Regions from separate parts of the Homo sapiens genome. Here region 2 is linked to region 1. The links come from fine-mapping of genetic effects on gene expression. A gene starts in region 1. The other region holds a variant in brackets. All regions are shown on one strand. Distances are between the middles of the regions.

Region 1 (5,260 bases):
CAGCCCCTACAGCCCCTCTCGTATCTGCGCCTGGCACAGCTCCTGGCTCTCAAGGCCAGCTCTGTAATAACTAGATATTGCATCTGCTCTCTACCCTTTGTGTGGAGTAATGATTCTTGGCTCCCACAGCTGTTCCGGAGACTTCAAGGCACTAGCTCGATGGTCTGAAAAACAGAGATGAGCTCCTTGAACTTGGATCATTGGTTGAGGGGGCTAGAGGGAGAATGGGAACCACCCCCTCAGTCCCCTGCACTGACTCACTCCCCGACATATCCGGACCTCCCCAAGTCCAGAAGGAAGGAATGGAGCTGAGCAACTGACGTCAAATCCCCAAGTCGACTCAAGAGGCTGCCAGGAAGCAGAGATGCAGACCCCAAGGAGACTGGGCTGGGGCTGGTATCACACCCTCACTCTATATTTATGGGAGGAAAAGTGAAGATTAAATTCCCAAGTTGTGCGTGTGTCTAAGGCTCAGAGTTGGCGTCTTTGGCCGGGCGCGGTGGCTCACACCTATAATCCCAGCACTTTGGGAGGCTGAGGTGGGCAGATCACCTGAGGTCAGAACTTCGAGACCAGCCTGGCCAACATGGTGAAACCCCGTCTCTACTAAAAATACAAAAATTAGCGGGGCGTGGTGGCAGGTGCCTGTAGTTCCAGCTACTCAAAAGGCTGAGGCAGGAGGATCGCTTGAACCCAGGAGGCGGAGGTTGCAGTGAGCTGAGATCGCACCACTGGATTCCAGCCTGGGTGACAAAGCCAGACTCCGTCTCAAAAAAAAAAAAGTTAGCGTCTTCAGCCCATTAAGACCACCTCCTGCTTCAGGACAGGCCAACGTACACATCATCCCCACAGCGAAGTTTTGGTCTATGAGGGTCAGTGCTGTCCTCATAGGCTATCATTTCTGTCCTGGTGTTTAACAGCCCTAATGGGTGTGATAATAATATGTTTGCAATCCCCTGTTAACAGTAAGCATCAGACAAGTGAGGGGTGCTAACCTGCAGACTGCCGGCATGCTTCTCCAGCATTAGGGGACGACCAGGTTGAGCTTGTGCTGGGAGAGCGTCCTGTCTGAGGGTAGAGACATAGCCCCTGCCTTCAGAGACTCCCAGCCTGATAGAAGAAACAGTCTCTGCCCTGGAGAGCCCCTTGTCCAAGGGTATAGAGAGTTATTGCAGGCTCAAGAAAGAGACAAAAGTCACTTGCGATGCATGCAGTTAGCAAATATCTATTGAGGGCCCTCTCTGTATGTGCCCAGCAATGGAGTGGGTGCCAAGGGTACAGGGGGAAGGGGGCCTGTCCCTGTCCTCAAAGTGCTGTACCTGAGCAGTCACAAAATAGTATGGTGGTGGGTGCCACGAGACAAGAAGGTGGGGCCCCCAAGCAGGCTGTCTGGATGTGCTGCCACCTGGAAGTCCCCTCTCTGCACCCCTGGCACTTCCCAGGTGCATCCACCTTCTGCAGCTCCCATTTCGTCCTCCTTGCTCATAGCTGGTTGCTTACCTAAGGTCTCTGACCAGTCCATAGCCTATTCACCTCAAAACCCTGCGCTGAGGAAGCGCTCAGTGACCGAGGAAAGAAGGGAAGCAGGAAGGAAGGAAAAAGGAGAGAATCTCTGCCACCACCACCCTGTGCCAGTCACAGGGCGCAGTCTAGGAGCCGCCTGGAGACCCACGCTGACCTGGCTTTCCCTCAGAGCTGGGAGCATGGGATGTGAGGAGCCCCTGGGTCAGCCTGTGCCCTTCTCCTCCCCTCTTCCTGTCGTTTTCTACGTCTAATTCAGACTAGGTGTGTCTGTGGCTCTTCGGAGAGGAAACAAGACATTTCACACTGACACTTCTCCCCACCCTCCTCAGATAGCCCATTTCCACGTTGTTTGGGGGCAGGATGGGTCCTCTGGGTGGGAAGAGGGTGTGGAGGATGGAAAGAGCCGGTAAGAAGGAGAAAGTCCCGCCTCGGAGGGCTCGGGTGGGGCAGGAGGAGAGGCTGCCTCCAGTCACAGAGCCCGGAGGCAGAGGCCTCCCAAGGTGCCATGCTCTTCAGGAGGGTCTGAGGAGGAGGGAGGGGCGGCAGAGTGGGCCTGTGCTTGGAGACGTCACCCCGGGCTTTATAAAAGGGATGTGATCAGGGAGCTGGGGAGAACTCTTGAGACCGGGAGCCCAGCTGCCCACCCTCTGGACATTCACCCAGCCAGGTGGTCTCGTCACCTCAGAGGCTCCGCCAGACTCCTGCCCAGGCCAGGACTGAGGCAAGGTAGGCACACTGCAGTGTCCACCCCTGGGAAGGGGGTCTGCCCTGACCTGGGGATGCTCTGGAGGGGAGCAGGGAATCCGTTCTAAGACGGACAGATGCATCCAGGCAGGCAAAGGCAGGGGAGGGAGACACTGATCTTTCCTGTTTACCAGCCTGGCCAGATTATCCTGGGATGCCTGGGCGAATACACTGAGTCGCACTTTATTTGTGAAGCTAACACTCTGGGGATCCCGAGGGCTCTCTCTTGCTGTGGAAGGAATACATGCAATAAATAAATGCTGTGGCTGGAATTAGAGACCACAGACACGCTTGGATGGACCTAGGGAACCGCTCGGGGCTCTTGAGAGCAATGGGGCTCCTCTGAGCAGCTCCCCCCAAATTACAGATGGCAAATACAAGCCTAACCAAGGGCATCTACCTACCCACTAAGAACTAGGGGCCACTTCACTCCAGAAGCTTTCCAACCATGCCTGGAATTTCTGTCACTCACTGGATACAAACCCCCCAGGGTGGAGGGAACCACAAAAATTGTCTACAGCAGGTCGGCCACTCATGGCCCCTTTCCAAATAATTCATTTCTACCATATATGTTAAGTGCCCCGATGGGCTGGGCAGTGGAATCTGTGTGTGTGTGTGTGTGTGTGTGTGTGTGTGTGTGTGATATGTGTGTATGGGTGTATGTGTGTATATGTGTGTGATGTGTGTGCGCATGTGTGGTGTATGTGGTGTATGTGTGTGTATGATGTACGTGTATGGGTGTATGTGTGTATATGTGTGTGGCGTGTGTGTGCATCTGTGGTGTGTAGTGTATGTGTACGGGTGTATGGGTATATATCTGTGTGGTGTGTGTGCATGTGTGGTATGTGTGGTGTATGTGTGTGTATGATGTGTATGTATGGATGTGTGTATGTGTGTGTGTATGTTGTGTGTATGGGTGTATGTGTGTATATGTGTGTGTGGTGTGTGTGCGTGTGTGGTGTGTGTGCATGATGTGTGTGTATAGGTGTATGTGTGTATATGTGTGTGGTGTGTATGCGTGTGTGGTGTGTGTGGCATATGTGTATGTGTGTGTATGGGTGTATGTGTGTGGTGTGTGTGGTGTATGTGTGTGTGTATGATGTGTGTGTATGGGTGTATGCGTGTATATGTGTATGGGTGTGTGCGTATATATGTGTGTGGTGTGTGTGTGCATGTGTGGTGTGTGTGGTGTATGTGTGTGGTGTGGGGGGTGTGTGTGTGTGTGCTGGGGTCAGGCAGAGTTGTCCCATGGCGCACATGGTAAGTGCCATCCACAGTGGGAAGGAGGCACTCGGGGGGAAAGGGGAGCCGGAAGAAAGAGTACCACCCTCCAACCACACAAGCCCACTGCCCTCCTTCCTGGCCCACCACCCTGCTTCCGCACAGAGAACCGGAAATGTACATCTACCCACATTCCTGTCTGGCTCAGACCCCTCCAGGATGAAGCCCCTGCAGGGCCCCTTCCCCCAGCCTTGTCACTAGCTTTCTCTCCATGCAAAGCTCCATCCTCTTGTCTAGCTAGAGGGCCTGAAGTTCCCTTTGCACTCAGCCCCTGCCCTTGCTTCAGCGCCTTAGCACCGTCCTGGGAACACTTTCTGTAAACCTTTCAGCGATTCATGCTCAGAAACAGCTCAAGTGCCACCCCCTGCCAAAAATCTGCCTGGTCCTCCTAGGTTGGGTTCCCCTGGACTCCCATATCCCCTTGTGGATTCACATGCATCCGGTATGTCATTTACAGTGTTATTTTGAAATGATCTGCTGATGAGTTAATTTCTCATGCTAGACTTGAGATCTTGGGGGCAGCAACTCTGTCTTAGCACACCTGTGCACCCCTAGCACCTAGCACAGCACCAGCACCTAGTCGGTGCTCAAGGAGTGATTTCCAAATCAACCCAGACCCTGTGCATCCACGGTCTGAAATGCTTTTACACTATTCTCTCCAATGGATTAATCCTACCTCTACTCCGTGCCCCAGCCCTGGGCCTTAAGGTAAATGCAGAAAGCTGTGGTCTGGGTTTCAACTTGTCACAGTATCAAAGTCTGCAAGGATAAGTAAACTTCTGAGCAGGTGGCTGGTGGCCAATCTGATCCAGGGTTCTTATTTTATAGATGGACCAATGAGGTCTGGAGATGGGGGTGACTTGCTCACATTTCACAGGGAATGAAAGCAGAGCTGGGGCAAGATTCAAGTACTCCTCATTCCATTTCAGGGTTCTTACTCTTTACTCCATGCCTGAGTCCTGCAGGGAGCTGGGTGAGGAATGGGGGGTGGGGGTGTGGGTGCAAGAGCAGAGAGATGCATGGGCCTGAGCCACCATTAGGAGCTGATGGGCACAAAAGGTTCTCATCCCCCAGTCCCCCTTCCCCAGGGAGAGCGGCTCCAGGCTGTGGGTCAGGCCAGGACAATCTTTTTGCTCAGCTGGCATTGCTCCTGCCTCCCCAGCCTTTTGTCTTTAATCGTGTTTGTTGGACAGTCTCAAAGTGTCTGGTGACTTTTTCAAAAAGAAATTAGATTTGGGAGCCGGAAGAGGTAGGGTGGGGTATGTGGGGTGTCGGTGGGGCAGAGCAAGGCAGGGTGATGGGAAATGGTGTGAGGATCAGGGCACACGGCTCCCATCTCAGCAGCCAAAATGATGAGGCCAATTCAATTCATAGCCTCTTAGAGTCCACAAAGAATAGACTATGGAGATAACTGACCTGATAAATCAAGGAAAGGTTTTTCTTTTCCATGAATGATAGGCAATAAGACAATTTAATGACCGTCTTCAAGGCTGTGAAGGGCTATGAGAGAGAGCAAGATGATTGCCTCTTTCTTTCTTTTTCCTTATAAAAGAAAAAGAAATAAGTTTCTCTTACAGCAGGAGAGAACAAGGTCAGACTCAAGCGTATGGATGGGGAGAGTGGAACACAGAAAGTTGTGGATTTGTGCAGAACCCACCATGGAAGGAAGAAGTGCCTGTTGCCAGGCTCCCGAGAGAATATTGGAACCTCA
Region 2 (5,488 bases), 25 kb after region 1:
AGAATATTAGAATATTAGGGTATCAGAGCATGAAGACACCCTTGGTGCCATCCAGCCATCTGCTTCACTGTACAGATTTGGAAACTGAGGTCCAAAGAGGAGAAAGGAGGGATCCAACATCACATAGCAAATTTATGGTAGAATGAAGACTAGGATCCAAGTCCCTGACCACCAACCCAGGGCTCTTTGCACTGCCCATTGCAGTTCACTAGTTCATCCACTTAATAAATATTAAGCACCACTGTGGGCAAAAATCATATTCATACATACATAAAGAACTCTGCTGCAAAAGCAGCTAAGTTGGTGCTGTCATAGAAGGGCTTGTAGCCATGCTGTGGAAGCCTACAGCAGAAAGCAGTCAATTCCAGGCTGAGTCAGGGCCTGCTTCATGGAGGAGGGGGTAATATTTGAAGTGGGCCCTAAAAAATAATCAGGGAAAAGCCAAGATAGGCATCTTAGCCTGAATAAATAGCACTCATCCTGGGATTTAGGGACCAGATGTCTGTCTGGGGAGCTGTACTTGACTGCTTGTAAAGCTACAGGGAAAAGGAAATGAGGCAGAGAACCAGGGCCTAAAAGGGAGTTAGAGCCAAGCAGAAAGAGGAGAATAAGTTGGAAGATCAGCTGCCCTACCTCTATTTAGCAGAAGCCAAAACCCTGAAGACTGCCCTTCTCTCCCACCCTTACTAGGTCAACAGAGGATAGACAACCCCCTCCTCCCCCAGCTCCCTGCTTCCAGAGGATTATGTAACCAAATCCAAGCACACACCACTCACCACACAACAGCAAGTAAGCTGAGAGGTAAGGTGTTGGGGCAAAGAAAGCGACCCTATTCAGAAAACCAAGAAGATGGTGGACTAGCGTCATAAAGAACCATCTGAAGTCAGCATGACTTTTAGGTTACTTTTTACATTTAGGGGAGGGGGAAGAGGAAGAGGTTGGGATCAAGAGGTGACTGATGACCGCAGACACCTGGGTGCCAGCAAGGGTCTGAGGAGTATGTAAAAGTTCTTTTTTCTAGGTCAGGTCACAATGTTCCTATAAATCTTTAACATAACATTGTTATTTCTCTGTATTCTTCCTTATCTCCTTGGGGCTTAGTTTGGGGGAAAGAGCTGTTATCATTTTTTTAAGTTGAACTGCAAGCTAATCTATAATTAGCTGGTCTGTGTACAGAGCTAAGCAGAAGCTTTTAACCTAAAAGATATTACCCCTGGGGGTCAGAGGCAAAATGGAGTCAGTCATGCTAAGCCTCCCTCCACTATTTCAATTTCCCCATTGTCAAAGGTTCATCCCACAGTCTTGTGGGATTGGGGAAAATGAGACATCATTACTCACCTGGCTACTTCCTGCCAAACAGGGTTGACAAGGGGTGACTATGGAATGAAACCATTTGACCTGGCTAAGGAAATATTTCGTAGTGCCATTTTTAGGAACAATGATCATCGGCATTTCCCTTTTTGCTTTGATAGTTTTAGCGAGACTTGCACAACCTTTGTTTACACAGTACATAATAAGTTTTACTAGAACGTAGGCCACCATGACTAAAAGAAGAACATCAAGGCTGAATTTAAGAATGCCTCCCAAGATTGATGGAATTACACTAGGAATCCAGGAGAATAGGTCTTTAAAGCAGTCTCTGTAAGTGCCCCCAGATTAAGCCTGCTTTGGTGTTCTAAGGTTTGTTAAAGCCAGGTAGCCTGTTGTCTAATTGTATCAATATGGGTCTGTAGAGGAGGAATTAAGCTAGCAACAGGTGGCTAGCTTAGGGACGCCATTTGGTAAGTAGAAAGTAGGCTTGCGGCTGGGCGCGGTGGCTCACGCCTGTAATCCCAGCACTTTGGGAGGCCGAGGCGGGTGGATCATGAGGTCAGGAGATCGAGACCATCCTGGCTAACAAGGTGAAACCCCGTCTCTACTAAAAATACAAAAAATTAGCCAGGCGCGGTGGCGGGCACCTGTAGTCCCAGCTACTCGGGAGGCTGAGGCAGGAGAATGGCGTGAACCCGGGAAGCGGAGCTTGCAGTGAGCCGAGATTGCGCCACTGCAGTCCGCAGTCCTGCCTGGGCGACAGAGCGAGACTCC[G/A]TCTCAAAAAAAAAAAAAAAGAAAGTAGGCTTGCAGGCTTGTGGGTCCTTATTATTGCTTTGCATGTAGTGTCTAATGAGGTGCTGCATAAGAAAGAAACATGGGGCCTCTGGGTATGGAGTTATCAATTGGATCCTATGTATGATTTGAGAAACCAGCTTCTATAGATCTAATGCCCAAGAGGCTACATGACTAAAATTATGTGTACAGGAACAACTAGAGGATCAGAGTGGTCATGTACTGAACAAGGTTTAAGATGACAAATCTGGCAGTGTGATATGCTAGTGAAAGAGGCAATAGATTGAGAAATCCTAACTCAAGAGTTGTCTTGCCAAGGAAACAAAAATCTCTAAAGGACATGCAAGACACATAGGGGATACATTTTCATTGTACTTATCTTTTTGTGAAACAGTAGCTTTCGGTCTTTCAAGTGCTCACAAGCCCACTGTTTTCCTGGTTTCCGGATTAGTGGGCTGTCTTCTGGTGGTACTGCCTTGACCTGAGTATAATGTGCACATGGCTTTACTCCAGCAAGTTTAACTGATAAGCGTGTGTTCACCAGCAGCTCAAATGGCCTTGTCCACTTGGCAGCAAATTGGTGTTCAGGTCCTTGTTCTTTCCAGGTATTTAGGAGGATCTAATTTCCCAGTTGAAAAGGATGTAGGACCACATCTGCTGGATGAGTGGTCCTGCTAGAAGCAAACTCATGAACAGAAGTTAGTATAGTGCCTAGAGTCTTAATATTTGGTAATTGCCAAATCTCTTAAAACATCAGTTGGTTCTCCCACCAGGACAAAAACCTAGAATGGGCTACCAGATAATACTTCAAAGGGGCTCAATTTGAACCTACTTGAGGGAGCCACTCGAATCCACAACAGCAATCAGCAACATCTTATCCCAAGTCAAATTAGTTTCTTGATATATTTTGGCAATGCTTCTTTTTAGAGTATGGTTCATCTTTTCAGTTTTTCCCATGGATTGTGGTCTCTAAGATGATAATCTAAAGGTTTCAGGAAGAGACAAGTCACAGCTCCCCTGACACTCCTGTCACCATCATAGATAGTCTTTGAATTAAGGTAGGTGGGTATTAACTACAGAATACGTTGCCCCTGTATCAATAAGAAAGTCAATAAGTTTGTTCCCCACTGTCAATTTTACCCAGGGCTCCTGTGGGACTATGACAGCAGTTGGCTAAGCATACATATTCAATGTATGTATGTTACAGAAGAAGCTACGAATATTTATGAAGGTGATCCTGACACATGCGTATTGTACAAACATGCATGTTACATATGACCCATGTTTACCTTGAGGTGAAAGCGTAACATTTAAATGTACTACAATTAGGCCCTGTACATCAAAAGGTCTTTTCAGAACACAAAGGCATGCAAATGCACAATCTCTATAACTAGCTAGAACCAGTTCATGGCCAGCAGTCTTATTATCAGGAGAAAATTAGTGAAATCAGTCTTTTGTTCAATCAAAGCTATAGTTATGGCTGGTGGAACTGGGGTTCAGTTAGTCAGCATCTATGAACTGGATGAGTTGAAATTGTTTTAATATTGCTTGTCTTAAGGCCAGTGCTTGCTTAGCTGCTAGAGAAAAAGAGAAACCTTGTGTCATTGAGAATATAGCTTATTCTTTAAGTGTAAGGATGCATGACTTAACTCTTGCCTGGCATGGCCTTAGGTCCTGTTTATAATATGGTATTTTATTGCCACAAAATTTCAGTTATGTCAGTCTTATGACCTCTATTTTAACATTAGTGTTGATTAGTTATTGTATCTAAACCACAAAAGGGAGAGGGTATAATGAGGCGTATCTGACTTCCCATCACATTATACCTGAAGACTAAGTTTTTAAGGTTTTTCTGGGGTCCCCTTAGCCAAGAGGGGGTCCATTCAGTCAGCAGGGGGCTTAATATTTTATTTTTAGTTGACATTCTCCCATTTGGCCAAGATATACCAAAGGCAGCATAAATGGCCAAACTTTTATTTTGTTCCATATTGTTGCTGGGGGTGTTGTGGCTATGTGCCCCAGGTCCATCACATCCCTTGGTAGGATCCCTGTGGCTAAGGAACTCAAAGCCAAAAGACTTGTAGTCAATTAAACGTTTTAGGCCATTTGGTAAGGGAGGTGGCCAAGCATTCATTAACCCTTAAAACCTTTTAAGTAACATAAGAGCCAAAACCAAAAGCCAAATAGCAAAGGTACAAAACTGACCTTTCTATAAGTTCTATGTGTTGAGCCATCAGCTGTTTAGGCATCTGTGTACCTATATTTGGAGGATCTGAACTAATTTTACTCCTTAAAAGTAAAATTAGTACATCAAAAGGTGTTTTGTGCCCACCTCTTCCATGAGCGTCCTTGGGCCCAGAGGGATTTAATAGTTTTTTAAATCCTGGAGATATTAGGTACAGAGAGAAAGGTAAACCCAATTTCTATAAGCTATAAATAGCTCAAAAAGAAAAAAGGCGGGCCAGGCGCAGTGGCTCACGCCTGTAATCCCAGCACTTTGGGAGGCTGAGGCAGGCAGATCATGAGGTCAGGAGATCAAGACCATCTTTGCTAACATGGTGGAATCCCGTCTCTACTAAAAATACAAAAAATTAGCTGGGCGTGGTGGCACGTGCCTGTAGTCCCAGCTACTTGGGAGGCTGAGACAGGAGAATGGTGTGAACCCAGGAGGTGGAGCTTGCAGTGAGCCGAGATTGCGCCGCTGCACTCCAGCCTGGGTGACAGAGCAAGACTCCGTCTCAGAAAAAAAAAAAAGGCTTTCTTGACTCTGGAAAACAAAACATAAAGAATTAGCAACATTTCAAACTTAATTTAGGATTAGATTTTGAGGACATTTGTCAAAATGTTAAAGCCTCAAACCATTTGATCAAAACAGAACCGCCGGTCTTTGTAAAATAATAATTATTCATTTCACAAAAGTGATAATTAAAAGACTTTAATAGCAATACAGAAAGTTACATGAATATAAAGACTTAACCTTTCTAAAGCTCAGTTTTCCTAAGTAATCAAAAACCTGATAAAGATAACAAGAATGAGGAATTATCTTGAGAAAATGTAAAATCTTTCCTTTTATTTTTTGAGACAGGGTCTCACTCTGTCATCCAGGCTAAAGTGCAGTGGCACAATCATAGCTCACTACAGCCTTGAACTCCTGGACTCAAGTGATCCTCCCGCCTCAGCCTCCCCAGTAGCTAAGACTACAGGCACGCACCACCACACCCAGCTAATTTTTTTCAGAGATGGGGTCTTGCTATATTGCCCTGGCTGGTCTTGAACGAGCTTCAAGTGAGCGTGAGCCTCCTACCTCATCCTCCCAAAGCACTAGGATTACAGGCATGAGCCACTGTTTCCCAGCCTAAAATAATTGTTTCTTAGGCCAGCTACC

Which allele goes with the higher level. Alleles are on the strand shown, and positions count from the first base shown. SD is a standard deviation of normalised expression in the study named.
For the expression in prostate of the gene that starts at base 2,135 in region 1, allele G in region 2 goes with a higher level than allele A (small effect, 0.36 SD a copy in GTEx).

What was found. PIP is the estimated chance that this variant, and not a neighbour inherited with it, causes the effect. A credible set is the group of variants that fine-mapping cannot tell apart.
Region 2: its variant is the best candidate, but not a certain one, in a credible set for the expression of KISS1 in prostate (GTEx, PIP 0.51).

The regions. Positions count from the first base shown.
Region 1 is chr1:204,193,366-204,198,625 of GRCh38, reverse strand. It overlaps KISS1 (KiSS-1 metastasis suppressor), which reads left to right and starts at 2,135. Exons shown (of 3, transcript NM_002256.4): 1 at 2,135-2,250. It overlaps GOLT1A (golgi transport 1A), which reads left to right. Exons shown (of 5, transcript NM_198447.2): 5 at 130-463. The coding sequence ends at 168.
Region 2 is chr1:204,167,820-204,173,307 of GRCh38, reverse strand. No RefSeq gene overlaps it. Among named protein-coding and RNA genes, the nearest start is that of REN, 4.2 kb to the right of the region's middle. RefSeq lists cis regulatory regions at 1,308-1,346, 3,053-4,151, enhancers at 1,187-1,412, 1,094-1,685 and a promoter at 1-5,488. The variant G/A (reference allele first, on the strand shown) is at 2,086.